Regions from separate parts of the Homo sapiens genome. Here region 2 is linked to region 1. Evidence: fine-mapped expression QTL. A gene starts in region 1. The other region holds a variant in brackets. All regions are shown on one strand. Distances are from middle to middle. Region 1 holds the start of RBAK (RB associated KRAB zinc finger). Region 2 has its middle 23 kb from the start of MMD2.

The links.
Region 2: its variant is fine-mapped to the expression of RBAK in monocytes after LPS (Quach 2016, PIP 0.95).

Annotation. Positions count from the first base shown.
Region 1 is chr7:5,041,724-5,050,056 of GRCh38, reverse strand. It overlaps RBAK (RB associated KRAB zinc finger), which reads right to left and starts at 4,197. Exons shown (of 5, transcript NM_021163.4): 1 at 3,661-4,197; 2 at 1,966-2,024. The coding sequence starts at 1,980. It overlaps RBAK-RBAKDN (RBAK-RBAKDN readthrough), which reads right to left and starts at 4,197. Exons shown (of 6, transcript NM_001204513.3): 1 at 4,099-4,197; 2 at 1,966-2,024. The coding sequence starts at 1,980. RefSeq lists an enhancer at 3,588-3,697 and a silencer at 3,848-4,057.
Region 2 is chr7:4,978,266-4,986,598 of GRCh38, reverse strand. It overlaps the pseudogene RNF216P1. Among named protein-coding and RNA genes, the nearest start is that of MMD2, 23 kb to the right of the region's middle. The variant G/C (reference allele first, on the strand shown) is at 3,645.

The DNA of each region.
Region 1 (8,333 bases):
GAGACCAGTCTGAGCAATACAGTGGGAATACATCTCTAGGCTGGGAGCAGTGGCTCACGCCTGTAATCCTAGCATTTTGGGAGGCCGAGGCGGGCAGACTGCCTGAGCTCAGGAGTTCAAGACCAGCCTGGGTGACATGGTGAAACCCAGTCTCTACTAAAATATAAAAAAATTAGTCGGGTGTGGCAGCTTGCGCCTGTAGCTATGCAGGAGGCTGAGGCAGGAGGATCGTGTGAGCCCAGGAGACTGAGGTTGCAGTGAGTTGTGATCACGTCTCTACACTCCAGCCTGGGTGACACAGCAAGACCCTATCTCAAAAAAAGAAAAAAAGAAACAGAACAAAACAAAACAAAACAGACTTCATCATTTAAAGACAAGCAGAAATACTTACAGACGAATCTTTTTAAAAGCCAAGAAAAGAGAGACTCCATGGAGAAAGTATCAGTTTGGAAGTAACAGATGTCAAAGGCAGACAAAGGGTCCTGGGAGGTAGGGGCTAGGAAATCCCCTCTGGATTTGACTGCAATGAAATCACTGGTAATCTTTACAGACTGACTCAGCAACGTGAAAAGGACAAAACTAAAACACTGAGAACTGAAATGAGAAACAGAAATGAGGAAATCTTCACAAGAGAGTAACTGTATTGTTTGCTGTGCAACCCAAACTGAAAGACGAACAAATATTTGAAGGATGATCATGTCATTCATTCCCCCCATGATCTAGGACTCAACAGTAAAAACAGAATTCTGTCTACTGGGATCACAATGTTTCCTTCCCTGGAAAAATTATATGCACCAAGTTCTCCTTGGGCAGCAGGCAGGCCCTCTGCTTACATAAGCACCAAGAATAAGCCATAAGTTATGGTAACTTAATGGTTGTTATTAGGAAAGCTATCCGCAATTATATCAACTTGAATGAAGAAATTTTTCCAAGTCCTAGAAAATCTTTTAAATCCACAAGTAACAAAGTTGGTTTCTCCTTATAATGAATGCAAATGATGTCATGGATGGTGATATGGTTTCGCTTTGTGTCGCCAACCAAATCTCATGTTCAATTGTAATCCCCAATGTTGGAGGTGGGGCCTGGTGGGAGGTGATTGGATCATGGGGGCAATTTCCCTTTTGGTGCTGTTCTCCTGACACTCAGTGACTTATCACAAGACGTGGTTGTTTAAAAGTGTGTAGCGCCTCCCCCTCCCTCTTCCTCCTGCTCTGGTGATGGAAGATGTACCCGCTTTCCCTTTGCCTTCCACCATGACTGTAAGTTTCCTGAAGCCTCCCCAGCCATGCTTCCTATGATAGAGCCTGCAGGCGTGAGCCAATTAAACCTCTTTTCTTTATAAATGACCCAGTCTTGGTTATTTCTCTATAGCAGTGTGAGAATGGACTAATACAGATGGCATTTTCCTTTTGTGATGACTGCCAAGAATATCAGTCCTGGGTGCGGCTCAATTTCAACAGCCTTAAAATCTACTATCCACACATACAAGCTTCACAAATCATTTTTGGTGCTGATCTGCCACACTAACTATATTTTACAGGACAATGTCTATTTCCACATTCCCATTTTAAAGTATGAATCCTGGCTGGGCGCGGTGGCTCATGCCTGTAATCCCAGCACTTTGGGAGGCTGAGGCAGGAGGATCACCTGAGGTCAGGAGTTTGAGACCAGCCTGGCCAACATGGTGAAACCCTGTCTCTTCTAAAAATACAAAAAATTAGTTGGGCATGGTGGCGCACGCCTGTAATCCCAGCTACTCGGGAGGCTGAGGCAGGAGAATCGCTTGAACCCAGGAGGTGGAGGTTGCAGTGAAGCGAGATCATGCCACTGCACTCCAGCCTGGGCAACAGAGCAAGACTCCATCTCAAAAAAAAAGAAAAAAAAAAAGGTAAGAATCCTTACAAACCTCTTAAAATGCATCATAAAATAAAGTTGAGGAACATATACACAAGCATGAAAACTCACCTGCAATGTGTTCATTTTCTGCTGCTCTTGGAAACGTGCAGAGACTGTGGCTGGTAGACCTAGAGGGGGAGAAGCAGGTCACTGAAGTCATGAGTGCTCTGGCCTGCAAAGGCAGGAATCTCCTGCGTAAGAACCACAAAAGAAAGCTCAATAGGCTAACACCCTGTGAACACTCAGCCTGCAAACACTCAGAAGGGCCTAAAAGAGTGATACAGGGTTTCGCCATGTTGGCCAGGCTGGTCTCGAATTCTGGCCTCAAGTGATCCGCCTTCCTTGGCCAATATGGCGAAACCCCATCTCTACTTAAAAATAACAAAAAAATTAGCCAGGCATAGTGTCACATGCCTGTAGTCCCAGCTACTCAGGAGGCTGAGGCACAAGAATCCTTTGAACCTGGGAGGTGGAGGTTGCAGTGAGCCGAGACCACACTGCTGCACTCCAGACTGGGTGAGAGACACTGTCTCAAAAAAAAAAAAAAAAAAAAAAAAAAGAGAGTGAAAAAGAGTGATAGGCGAAGCATGCACTTGTAACTTTGTAACTCTAAGATAATCAGGTAGTAATCAGATGAGTGAGACTCTCATGGGTAACATGACTCCTTTTACAAATAGTCTGCCATCATCAAATACAACCTGCAAAAAGAAAAAAAAAATTCCCATTATACAGCTCATGTTTTTTGTGGTTTGTCTGTTTGTTGAGACAGGGTCTCAATCTGCCACCCAGGCTGGAGTGCAGTGGTGCATTCACAGCTCACTGCAGCCTCGACCTCCTGGCCTCCATTGATCCTCCCACCTCAGCCTCCTGAGTAGCTGGGACCACAGGTGCATCCCAGCATGCCTGGCTACTTTTGTATTTTTTGTAGAGTCAGGGTCTCCCTATGTTGCCTAGGCTGGTCTCTAACTCCTGGTCTCAAGGGATACTCTTGCCTTAGCCCCCGCAAAGTGCTGGGATTACAGGTGTGAGCCACTGCATCCGGCCCGCATTTTCTTATTGTCTCTTTAAACTGCTTAAAATCAAAGAAGCCATAGGAATTGAGTATGTGAGCTCTCAGAAATGAAATGAATGTGTATAAAATATGGTTTTGTTTCTAAATTATCTAACTGAACTTGGTTATTGCTGCACCTAATAATCTTCTATTAAGAAAACTAGGATACGGGAGAAAGAACACTGGCCTGGGAGATAAGACTCCTGAGTTCTACTATGAGCAACTCTACCCACAAAGCCAGTGACCCGGTCAAGTCACCCACCTGCTAAGGCCCAGTCTCTTCCCCTAGCAACTGAGGCAGCAAGAGAGAATCCCTGCAGACTGTTCCTGCATTACTACCAGTCTCCAGGGCAGATCTAAGGGGGGAATCAGCAGACACTTAAATGAGAGAACAGAGGCGCTGACGGACGTTTAGAGGAGGTCGAAATCTGGAGCACGGAAAGGAGGAGGAAGGGCTGTTAGGGGTTAGCGGGGAGTGGAGACGACGTCCGCAGCTGAGGCTGGTGACACCCTCCAGGCCCCCATAAGCCTCGTCCTCCCAGATTTCCCATGCAGCGCCTGTTCGGTGCAGCCGGACCCTGCCCTCAAACCCAAACACACGTCTCTCCTGCAAGCGATCGAGACCCTCCCCCTGCCCCACACTCTAAGGTCCCCAACACACGGTGACTTCACTCAGGCCCTTCTCGCTCCGGGCCCGAAAACCCAAGACCTACCCTTCTGGGGCTCCGCAGCCTCTGCCCCACGGCTCCCGAGAGGCCGGGGCGGGGCTGCTGTCGCTGGCGCGCGTCTGCTCGCGAGGTCCCCTCCTGTCCACCTCACTAAGGTTGTTCTGCTCCCGAGGGGCCCGGGCCGGGCCTAAGGGGCAAATCCAGGCGGGTGTCCTTCCCGGGACCCAGATCCGCCTCCCTCGGGCTCACCGTACAGCGGCAGCCTGGGCCAGGCCGCCAGGACACACACGGGCCAGGCCCGCGTCCCGCCGCCCCTTCGCCTCCGCCGCCACCTCCGCCACCTCCCGTCCGGCCCCTCTGGCCCCAGCGCCGCCGGCTCCGGGGCTCAAGCTCGGGGGTCCCCGCTCAAGCCTCCACCCGGCCCGCGCGAACCCTGGCCTGCACACCCCCGCGCCCGCCTAGGTGCTGGCCCGGGCGCTCAACCTCCAGCCCCGCAGGCTCCGCGATTCTCGTCCACTGGAGGCCAAAGCCTGGGAACTAGAGCAAGCGGTGACCTGAGGACGCACAGGAAGCGAGGGCAGTGCAGCGGCGGCGCGCATGCGCGAACACGCACACAGAGAGAGGTGCACACGCGCAGGAGTGCACCGGAAGTCAGCCTCCGGGGCCCACAGCTGGTCCCAGGACAAGCACCCTACTCTATTTCCCATGAGCCTACGCGCCCCCCAAGTTTAGGGGCCGTTTTAAATGTCTCTACCCTGCCTAAAGGTTAAGAAGCTCCAGGCTATGAGCTTTGGGAGCTCTGAACCCCTGATTGAACTTCGCATTTGTCTTTACTCCCTTTTAGGGTCAAGTCCAGGGCTGCCTGACTGGGTCCTGGAGCCCAAGGCCTCTGGGTTAGAACCGAGTTTCCCATAAAGAGAAGGAAAGGAAAGGGTGTATCGTGGTCACTGCGCTGAAATGCTAAGAGAAGTTTCACTCAAATACTAGGACAGGATAAATGCCCAGCGATGCTTTCCAAGGAAGAGAAAGAAAATAGAATTTGTGGCTGGGCGCGGTGGCTCACGCCTATAAATCCCAGCACTTTGGGAGGCCGAGGCGGGCGGATCGCGAGGTCAAGAGATAGAGACCATCCTGGCCAACATGGTGAAATCCCTTCTCTACCAAAAATACAAAAATTAGCTGGGAGTAGTGGCGTGTGCCTGTAATCCCAGCTACTCGGGGGCTGAGGCAGGAGAATAGTTTGAACTCGGGAGGTGGAGGTTGCAGTGAGCCGAGATCGCGCCCCTGGACTCCAGCCTGGCGACGGAGCGAGACTCTGTAGCTTTTCTAGATCACACAGCGAATGCCTAAAAACTGTAGAGAAATCAGGAAATACACAGATCGAACGAAGAAAAGAGATACCTGTGATCTCACCTTCCCCAGGAGGATTATGTTTAGGGTTAGGTTATGTTGACCAAAAAGACTCAAAGTCTGTCAAGAGTTTTATTCTGGGCCTCCTACTTGAGTGACCATGGCTGGTGACACAGCCTCAGGGGGTCCTGAGAACGTGAGCCCAAAGTGGTTGGGTTACAGCTTGGTTTTATACATCTTAGGGAGACAGCAGTTACAGGCAAAGACATAAATCAATACATGAGAGGTACACATTGGGTCAGCCTGGAAAGGCTTTCAGGTCACTAGCAGATTCAAAGATTGGCAGTTGGTTCAGAGTTAAGCGTTGGCTGAACAGTTGGAAAACGACATGAAGAAATGGGCCATTGCGGTGGCTCATGCCTGTGATCCCAGCATTTTGGGAGGGTGAGCTGGGAGGATCCCTTGAGGCCAGGAGTTGAAGGACAGCCTGGGCAACACAGCGAGACCCCCACCTCTACAAAAAAAAAAATTATCCAGGTGTGGTGGTGCATGCCTGTAGTCCCAGCTACTCAGGAGGCTGAGATGGGAGGATTGCTTGAGCCTGGGAAGTTGAGGCTACAGTGAGCCATGATGGTGCCACTGCACTCCAGCTTGGGCAACAGAGAAGAAAAGAAAGAGAGAAAGAGAGGGAGGAAAAGAGAGAGAGGAAGGAGGGAAGGAAGGAAAAGAAAGAGGGAGGGAAAGAAAAGAAAAGCTTGAGTTAAGATAAGGGGCATTGTGGAAACCAAGGTTCTTGTTATGTAGATGAAGCCTCAGAACAGGCTTCAGAGAGAATAGATGATAAATATCTCTTATTGGATCTTAAAAGGTGTCAGAATCTCCAGAAAAGACTTCTTTTCTGTAAGGGAAGGAGATTCTCTACAGAATGCAAATTTCCCCCAAAGAGATGGCTTTGCAGGACTATTTTAAAGTGTGTCAAAGAAAATATATTATGGGATAAAATACTATGATTTCCTTCAGGGACTGCTATCTGTCATGTGATGCTATATCAGAGTCTGGATGGAGTTGGGTATCTTACTGATACAAAGAGCCTGTTCTGTCAGTCTTATGATCTGTATTCTAGTGTTAATGTTGGTCAGCTGTGCCTAAACTCTGAAGGGAGGAGAGTATGACAAGGCATGTCCGACCCCCTCCTTCCCATCATGACCTGAATTAGTTTTTCATGTTTATTTTGGATCTTGCTGGCCGACAGGGGAGTCCATTCAGTCAGTTGTGGGGGCTTAGAATTTTATTTTTGCTTTACAATTAAAATGTCAGTTTTCAAAAATGGGATCATAAGGACAATGATTCATCACAATTTTTTGGTGAACTCTAACAGTGTTCTTAGTGTTCTTGCCCAGTTGTTTCATAAAAACTGGTAAGGAAAAGACTAAAAATAAATTCTTCTGATGCCAGGAACCGTGGCTCATGCCTGTAATCCCAGCACTTTGGGAGGCTGAGGCAGGTGGATCATGAGGTCAGGAGACCAAGACCATCCTGGCCAACATGGTGAAACCCTGTCTCGACTAAAACACAAAAAATTAGCTGGGTGTGGTGGTGCGCGCCTGTAGTCCCAGCTACTTGGGAGGCTGAGGCAGGGCAATCACTTGAACTGGGAGGCGGAGATTGCAGTGAGCCGAGATCACGCCACTACACTGCAGCCTGGCGACAGAGCAAGACTCCACCTCTAAATAAATAAATAGATAAATAAATAAATTCTTCTGTTAACCTAGAATATTCTCTCCACAAATTCAGAAAATAAAGAAAACAATTTTATTATTGAATAAACATTAAACCAAACTGTGATGCCCATCGCAGGTGATCCATTAATGAGATGCAAAGAGAAATAAAGCCTCCTTTTTTTTTTTTTTGAGACAGAGTCTTGCTGTGTCACCCAGGCTGGAGTGCAGTGGTATGATCTCGGCTCACTGCAACCTCTGCCTCCCCAGTTTAAGCGATTCTGCTGCCTCAGCCTCCCAAGTAACTGGGACTACAGGCACATGCCACCACGCCTGGCTAATTTTTTGTATTTTTAGTAGAGACGGGGTTTCGTCATGTTAGCTAGTATGGTCTCAAAATCCTGACCTCTCAATTCGCCCGCCTAGGCCTCCCAAACTGCTGGAATTATAGGCGTGAGCCATGGCGCCCAGCCAAAGCCTCCTTTTTACATAGCCTGGCAGACATGATCCACTGCATACACGCTCTCAAGATAAACGGTAACTCATCCTCATGTAAAAGGACTTGCTATGTTTTTTTTTTTTTTTTGAGACAGGGTCTCATTCTGTCATCCAGGCTGGAGTGTAGTGGTGTGATCTTGGCTCACTGTAACCCCCACCTCCTGGGTTCAAGTGATTCTCATACTTAAGCCTCCCGAGTAGCTGGAATTACAGACATGTGCCATCATGCCCAGCTAATATTTGTATTTTAGTAGAGACAGAGTTTCGCCATATTGGCCAGGCTGGACTCAAACTCCTTCTTTTGATTTCTGTGTGGCTTCAAGTGATCCGCCCATCTCGGCCTCCCCCAGAGTGCTGGGATTACAGGTGTGAGCCACCGCACCTGGCCTGCTATGCATTCTTAAACACTCATCCTAAATTCACCTGGAAATCAAGGTGGCCACCCATGCTAGTTAATTACCTGTATCCGGTGAAAAAACAAAACTTCTCATATCTCCTTGACAAGCAGGTAGTAACAGCTCAAGGTGCCTAGGCTAAACTCCCTAGGCAACAGGAAGATAGGGACACTATCTTCCTCGAGGTTTACATTTCAAAGACAAGACTCTCAGGCTCTTAAGAAAAAAATTCCTGGGTTGTGGCTGGGCGTGGTGGATCAGGCGGGTAATCCCAGCACTTTGGGAGCCTGAGGTGGGTGGATCACCTGAGGTCAGGAGTTCAAGACGAGCCAGACCAACAAGGTGAAACTCCGTCTCTACTAAAAATACAAAAATTAGCCAGGCGTGGTGGCAGGCGCTGTAGTCTCAGCTACTCAGGAGGTTGAGACGGGGGAATTGCTTGAACCCAGGAAGTAGAGGTTGCAGTGAGCCGAGATCACACCACTGCACTCCAGCCTGGGTGAGAGTGAGATTCCGTCTCAAAAAAAAAAAAAAAAAAAAAAATTCCTGGGTTGTAGTGTTGGCAAGAAGTTCATTCACCTTTTTAAAAGATTTAGATACATGTCAAAGGCACAAAAGTTATTTATATTACCACGTTTATCAAGGAAATACTCTTTAAAAAGGAGAGGAGAAAAGGTTAATTTACCTTGTGGCAAATAAGACAAATTTAATCTTTTTTTTTTTAGAAAACCCGTACAGTGAGGGCTGGACACAGTGG
Region 2 (8,333 bases), 63 kb after region 1:
AGATTTTCCATATGCTGATGACTCTCAAAGTCCTATCACCATAAAACCCAAGGAGATTTAAAAAAAAAATCCTATCTACAGTCTGTATTTTCCAAACTTTCTAGTCCATTCAACCTCCCAATGAATTATTTTTACTCAGATGTCTCACAGGCCCTTCTCAGCACATTGGCAACCAACGTTTCCCAGACTGATTTCATGATTATTTCTCTCCAAAGCAGATGTTTATACTAGTTCTCACCCCAATAAATGATACTAACATCTTCCACGACCCCTTTCACCAAACTCCTATGTGGGTCTGTGATTAAATGTCCCTTGCTCAGGGAGGCCCTTGTGGAGACCCTTGGTCTACCTTAGGTTGCCTCCTGTTTTACCCTTTCAAAGCCTATTTTTCTTTCAGTCTTTTTTTGGCCGGGTGCAGTGGCTCACGAGGTTATCCCAGCACTTTGGGACGCTGAGGCAGGCAGATCATCTGAGGTCAGGAGTTGCTGACCAGCCTGGCCAACATGGTGAAACCCCATCTTTACTAAAAATACAAAAATCAGCCAGGCGTGGTGGTGAGCATCTATAGTCCCAGCTACTCAGGAGGCTGAGGCAGGAGAATCGCTTGAACTGGGGAGGCAGAGGCTGCAGTGAGCTGAGATCACGCCATTGCACTCCAGCCTGGGCGACAGAGCGAGACTCCATTTCAAAAAAAAAAAAAAAAAAGGTGGAAGGGGCTTGGCCTAGACCTCAGCATAAGCCACAGTCCTTGGCTTGGTTCTTCCCTTCCTACAGGTAAGACCCAATGAGTATTTTAACCACTACGATAACTCCACGTTTGTCCTTTGGACAAAAGAAACATCACTGTGTTGCTGAGAATCACAAGAATTTCAGTAGAATAGAATTTAATGGCAGTAAGAGCGACCAAGAGGAGTAAGCCAAGGTCTCTGCTGGTGCGTGCGCTCCTGTTCTGGCCACAGCTACAAAGCATGCACCGTGTGCTGTCCTTCATGGAAGACGCCTGTGTTACCCACCACAAACCAGCACCCTCCTCACCCTCAACCAAGGCCTTTAAGTGCCATCTATTTTAGGATCCTGGGGGGAGAACGCTGGGAGCTGTCAGTAGCTGCCCATTCTCTTCTGAGGGGGCACTGCTGTGTTCCCGGACTCTCTACAGACCTTACGTCCTATCACTGATAACTGAGCCACCTGGGGGATGGATGGTTGTGTGACCTGTCCCAAGTCGGAAAGCAAATCAGGAAGGAGCAGGATTAGAACGCATCTCTCATACTCCTGCATTCCACAGTAGAATGTATTACCCTCCATGTTTTTACGGTCAAAGCAGAACTTCTCTACTTCTCATCTATCTATTATTTCTTTTCATTTAGCCCTTCACGATCAGCAAATACCCATCTATTTATCTTCACCCTCATAAATTCCTTAGCAATCATAAACCATCCCAATTTCCACAAGCTGTTCATTCTGTTACCGTGTGAAGATGTAGTCAAGAGGTGTGACCCCAACAGGAAGACCAAGTAGAGTACCTTTCGGGTGATTGCATAGTGTCCTTTGAGCTCGTGCAGGGCCCACATGATGTCCTGACTACTGAGCACTTTGAAGTCGGCCATGAGGAGGTCAGCAGCTTGGATGAAGCAGTGCTGGTCAAGAGGAGTCAATTTAGAATAGTCAAAAAAGTCTTATTTTAGGCAACTGAAACGAGACAGAAGCATAAAATCAAAGGCCAGGCAGTACATTTCCCATGTAGGGGAAATCATTTTAAGAATTTATGTGCAGAAAAGAATAACATTTGTTCTAATTACTCTATAAGGAAGTTACCAGCCCTATAAGAGAGATGAGAAAATGGTGGCTCAGAGAGGTTAAACAAACCTGTCTGGAGCCGGCAGACTAGTTTTACTAGTTATAACTAGTAAAGAAGTATAGTTGGGGATTTAAACCAATCTTACAGCCATCTTCTTTCCATACCATATTTACAAACAACTATTTTTTTTCTATTATAGAATACGTAAGAGAGATAGTCAAAGAATCTATGGGGAGTTGGAAGATCAAGCAACACATCTTAATAAAGTTAGTTCTCAACCATACTTTACCATGTAACAAACTAAATGCCAGTTTAGATCACAAATAATGACAATGATTAAAGTTTTTAAAAACCAAACTGTTTACATCTTGATATGAGATCTGGTTAAACAGATGTATAGGATACGCTGTATACAAATCTCACATCAAAAGAAAAAAGATATTCCACTCTGGGTAATGATCTGCATGCTGAAGTACTTACAGGGAAGTGTACTGATGTTTTTGCAATTTACTTTGAAATGCATTATCATGAAATGAAACATAACAAAGATGTGCTGATGGACAGACAGAGGACATATGTATGATAAAGAGGATACAGTAAACTGTTAACTTTTTAGTAGTACCAGTGGTAGGTATACAGGTGATCAACGTAAAATATTTCAATTTTTCTGTAGGTTTGAAAATTTTCATAATAAAATGTTAAGAGTTTTGGCCAATTCTTGTTTTGCTTTAGGAATTTGCTTTGTAGGATTACAGATATGGAGGATTCGTTCAATTCTTTGTGGGAAAAGGAAGATAAGAATTACAAGGAAAGATAGAAGTTAAAGACAGAATTCAAAGTGGCTCAGACTGGGAGATCGCACTGAAGTATAGATATATTCTGAAATCCTATGTCCCTCGGCTAGTCTTTAAAAACTTGTCCCAACAAAGCACCTTCTTCCCACAGAGATAACAACAACAACAACAACAACAACAACAAAGCACAGCATTTCCAGGCAGTGACTGCAAAACATGAACATGACACTTGCCTTTGTCTCATCTTGGCTGGCCAGCAGACTGCTACTGGGATTTATAATGATTCTGTCTTCTCTCTTTGGATAATCTGGGTTTTCCAGAAGAAAATTACAAAGTCTGCAGAAACAAATGATGTTACTTTCATACTGCTTCCAAATCCCACACCTGCCCATTGCTTCAAATGCAATGTCTGAAGAATATAGTCCTTAGTCACACGTTACAACTGGCCTATCAAGAAATTAAGATGTTTGTAGCCCAGAAAAACTAAACAAATAAACAAACAACTGCACTGAATTTCTATCTTTGTGAAAGATAAAAAATTTAAAAAGCAATGAACATACTGATTAAGGCAAACTCCTCTGAAGTTTATGTATCAATTGGGTGTTAATGTATTGAAGTCACTGAAACTATTATTGGTTAAACTACAAAATTGGAAAATTTGAAAGAAAAGTAGCTACTCTTTGTCAAGAAAACTATGAACAAGAAAGAAGTGGAAAACTGTGTGTTCACATTTACAGTAAAAACAGTCTGCTAAGAGATGTAATAAATAAATGAAATATAAAAGACCTTCTGTTAATTCATTAATACTTTTTATACCCCTGTGGTAACATAAATCTCTATGGTAATATAAAGCTCTATGAGCCATTGAGTTACACTTCATTTATTTAGCTAGCTGCTAAGCTAGACTGATGAACAGATCATGTTTTCCTATGAACAGACTCTCTTCACACCAAACCCACTAGCTTTGTCTATTATCAGCATGAAATACTTCCAAAGTAAGGCTATATAGAGTGAGATAACACACACTGATGTATCACCACCCAGACCCAACA[G/C]ATGTTAACTATCCAGGCTCTTCACAGTCAAATCAGACAACCACCTTGGAACGACTGCACAGTAGTGCAGACAGAGTGGGTGGGGTACAGCTCTAGCCACATTCAGTAGCAAGGAAGCTTCTTTGCTCGGAGGGTAATGGGGACTTCCCCTTTTCTCTGTTCTTTCTCTTGCTCCAGTAGATTTCTAAGATGACCTCCTAGGTGCTATACCTGCAGTTCTCACACACTTCCCTTTCTACTGGTTCTCTTTTGCCAGATGTCAATAGTAAGGCCTGTAATAGTAGAACAGGAGGTCTGGCAGAAAGAGGGCAGAGAAAAAGTGCTCAGCTCTGCTCCTTTTCTCATCCAGGTGCCAGTGTTTGGGGACCGGTTTGGAGAGGTTCGTTGATTCTACAGCCCCCGCTGGGGACCCATGTCAAAGCCTTCTCCCTCATCTTGACATCTCAATGCATTTCCCTTTGCCGTTACTTCAGGAGTCCCACATACTCTTCATCTCTAAGCTCCCCCCTTCCCTACCACCACAGCCTGCCCAGTCCACAGAAGACAACGCCAGAGGCCCAAAGAGAGGAAAAAAAGCAGCAAACTCCTCCTATTACAGAGGGCGACAAGAATTCAGAGTACATTTTCCTTTAAAACCATTGTCATCAGTGGTAATTCTCCGTCCTAGAATTCACTGGTGTGCAATGAGGTTATGCAAACCTTTGAAGGCTGACCTGAGAATTAGCCACCAGCAAAAATCGCGTCTGTAGGGAAAGGCCTGAGTTCCAGACAACTCATTACATGTGCATATTTGATGTGGCGACAAACCAGACACGGACTAGCTTTAAAATGGTCTGTTTTTATGTGTTTTCTCAAGTAAATGATACATAAGTACACCTCTACATGAAATACAGATGGAACAGTAGATATGATTTCTTGAAAAAACAAAACATGTTTGAGAGGTTCATCTCTCCCCAATTCATTTTATATTTGCAACAATATTAAGAACTTCAAATACTGAAATGCTACAGACATGAAGTTCCACATGGCAGAAATCAGAAGCTCTCACTATAAACTGTCAAAATTCATTTCTAGTTTAATCCCTTCATTATGCTTACCAACAGAACTCTTCTGGAGGTTAAGTGACATTTGGAGGCACAGGAAATGAAGGACAAAGTTTTTCTTCTACAGAAACAAGTGGTAGCCTCTGTTCTAATATCTGCACCCTGGGGCAAAAGCAGTGGGGAAGCCTGTCGGACTTCAGTCTGCCCACGTCTTCATATGACCTCATGCTTGAGCTGATCTGACATGCTAGCAGTTCTAGAGAAGGCACTCCTGCAAAGTAAGCCAGGCTAGTACTCCAGTTTTTTTTTTTTTTTTTTTGAGACTGAGTCTCGCTCTGTTGCCCAGGCTGGAGTGCAGCGGTACAAGCTCCACCTCCTGCAAGCTACAAGCTCCACTTCCTGGGTTCATGCCATTCTCCCGCCTCAGCCTCCCGAGTAGCAGGCACTACAGGCACCCGCCACCACGCCCGGCTAATTTTGTTCTATTTTTAGTAGAGACGGGGTTTCACCGTGTCAACCAGGATGGTCTTGATCTCCTGACCTTGTGATCCACCCGTCTCGGCCTCCCAAAGTGCAGGGATTACAGGCGTGAGCCACCGCGCCCAGCCGTACTCCAATCTTTCAACCCTTAGATAGTTGTTGCTGCCTTCATCCAACTGAAGTTGACCACGTGTGAGTGAAAGATCTAAGTTAACCAGCCAGAGTAGATTACCTGCCACGTGGTTCTCTAATGAATAGGCCCTTCCTGCTTAAAATGGCCAGATGGTTCCATCTGAAGGCCATTTAAAGACGCACATAAAGCAACTGAGACTGAGCTACAACAAAATCCCAGTCTGCTCAACTCAGCTTTGGGCCTTATTTCCAGTTTCCATTAACATTTTAGTTTAGTTGTGGAGTTAACACTGTCCTAGGAGTCCAGAGAATAATGGAAAGGAAAGCAGTGTCAGGAAAACAAGATTGGCTTGAAAAGATGGAATACAGTGACCGTACATTCCCTTGCTTTTTAGATTTCATGAGAATTTTTATGTGTTTAAAGATCAATGTTTCTGAGTGACACAAAAAGCACAGAGGGACAGCAAGACCCTAAAAATAATTACACGTGTGAGACTCAGGAAGTAGGAGAACAGAACTGTAAGAGAAGGTGTCAATTTGATTACATTTTAGTGATTTTTCTAGACAATCTTGAAGATATATTTAAACATCCCTCTTCATTTGCAGAAGGAGACAAAAACATTGAATATACTCAATTTCTATGAGGTTAAATTGTTAAAAAATACTAAAACATGGTATCTGGTATTCAAATCATTGTTCTATAAATGAGCTAAGTTTATACTTTTCTCTATCATTTACATTTTCTGTAATGAACAAACCTGTATTACATTTCATAACCAGGAAACATTAGGAATTCAAAGAGAAGAGAGAAGTAAACAATTCACACGCAAGGGAAATACAATTAGTAAACAAATATTTGAAAAACACAGCCAATTAGCAAAGAAATGTCACTTATGCTACTTCATGCCTACCCTAGTTAACTACAAAAAATAACATAACTCAGTATTGTCGAAGAGTTGTTAAAGCAATTCACACATATAAGTTGCTTTTTAGATGAGTAGAAGCCTACAAGAAAGTTTTCATTGTAAAAATGTAGTCATTGCTGCTCAATTTTCCTGTAAACCTAAAACTGCTCTAAAAAATAAAGCTTAGTAATTTAAAAAAATGTAGTTATTATCACACCACTTGGAAACCCAAAAAGAAAGTATTTTAAAAGCTTAGGAGGGGAAAAAAATCTCCAACAAACAATTCTGTTGAAGACACAAACATAGCCAATAGGAAGGTGGATGCCAGGGTGTGGGGCAAGTAGAGTTCAGGAGACAAGCAGGAGAATGTTCACAGCTACATTATTTGTGACAGTCAGAACTCAAATGCCTATCAAAAGTAGATGGGAAATTTCATTGCTAAGTGATATAAATGGAATACCACTTAGCAATGGAAAATACATAAACTGTGGCTCTACCCAACGTGAATAAACCTCACAAACATAATGCTGAGTGAAAAGAAGTCAGATGCAAAAGAAGACTATACAAAATCTTTATGTAGTGTTTAAAGAGGATAGCAACATTCTATTTCTTGAAGATTTCTGGGTTGTGGTTCCATAAATGTTTGGTTTGTGATAAATTATTGAGCTGTGCATCTTTATTTTGTTCATTTTTCTTTATGTATATTATATACACATTGGTATACAATAACCAAGTTTAAAAACTATACACAATAAAGAATATGTGGAAAGGCTTCAGAAGAGTGAGTAACTGGCATGTAAATAACCAAATGGCTTTCTTTCCTCACTGTAAGGAAGGTTAAATACCCAGGTAGAGTCTCTTGTTGAAAAATAAAAAATGCTTTAAGAGTTTGGGTAATCCAAGCCGGGTGAGGTAACACATGCCTGTAATCCCAGCTATTCGGGAGACTGAGGCAGGAGAATCACCTGAACCTGGGAGGCGAAGGTTGCAGTGAGCTGAGATCATGCCACTGCACTCCAGCTTGGGCAACAAGGGCAAAACTCTCTCTCAAAATAAATAAATAAATAAATAAATAAATAAATAAATAAATAAATAAATAAATAAAAGGTTTGCAGGGCACGGTGGCTCACGTCTCCCAGCACTTTGGGAGGCTGAGGCAGGGGGGTAACTTGAAGTCAGGAGTTCGAGACCAGCCTGGCCAACATGGTGAAATCCCATCTCTACTAAAAATACAAAAATTAGCTGGGCATGTTGGTGCACACCTGTAATCCAAGCTACTCAGGAAGCTGAGGCAGAAGAATCACTTGAACCCTGGAGACGGAGGCTGCAGTGAGCCAGGATCACGCCACTGCACTCCAGCCTGGGCAAGAGACTGAGACTTCGTCTTAAAAAAAAAAAAAAAGAGTTTGTGTAATCCGAAAACTTCAAGACAGGAATCTAAAGTCGTTTCAAACTGACACTGCCCTCGGGGACTTGAAAGAAGCAAAAGCAATTCTCTATAAAGAAACCAACTCTATCAAGAACTCAAGACATGAGCTTAGAGTCAAACTTAGAAAATACACAAGAAAACGAGGCACCATGGGAGCCAGCAGGAAAAACAGAATATGATTCCCAAGAACTTAACAGATCACAGCAATCAAACTCACAAAGAAGCTATGTTTATTGGTTAAAGAAATTTAAAAAAGACTAAAAATATAGGCAAAGAGCAAAACTCTAGGAAAATAACCAAGAGAATTAAAAGCTAAAATACCATAACCGAAAAACAGTGGATGAGTTAAAAGAAGATTACATTCTACTGAAGAGAAATTTGTGGGCTAGAAGACACATCTGAAGAAATCATCCAGAATGCATCTCAGAGACAAAGAGGTGGACTTAGAGACTTGGAGACTGTGGGAGAAGAGTTACAGAAGACAGGAAACAGCTACAAAATTTCCAGAACTGACCAACATCACCAATCTATGGCCAGGTAGTGTATACTCTTAATGGTTTTGCCTTACTGAGAAGCATGTTAAGCAAAATTGATAAAGATTAAGGGAAGGCCAGGTGCAGTGGCTCACACCTGTAATCCCAGCACTTTGGGAGGCTGAGGTAGGTGGATCACTTGAGGTCAGGAGTTCAAGACCAGCCTG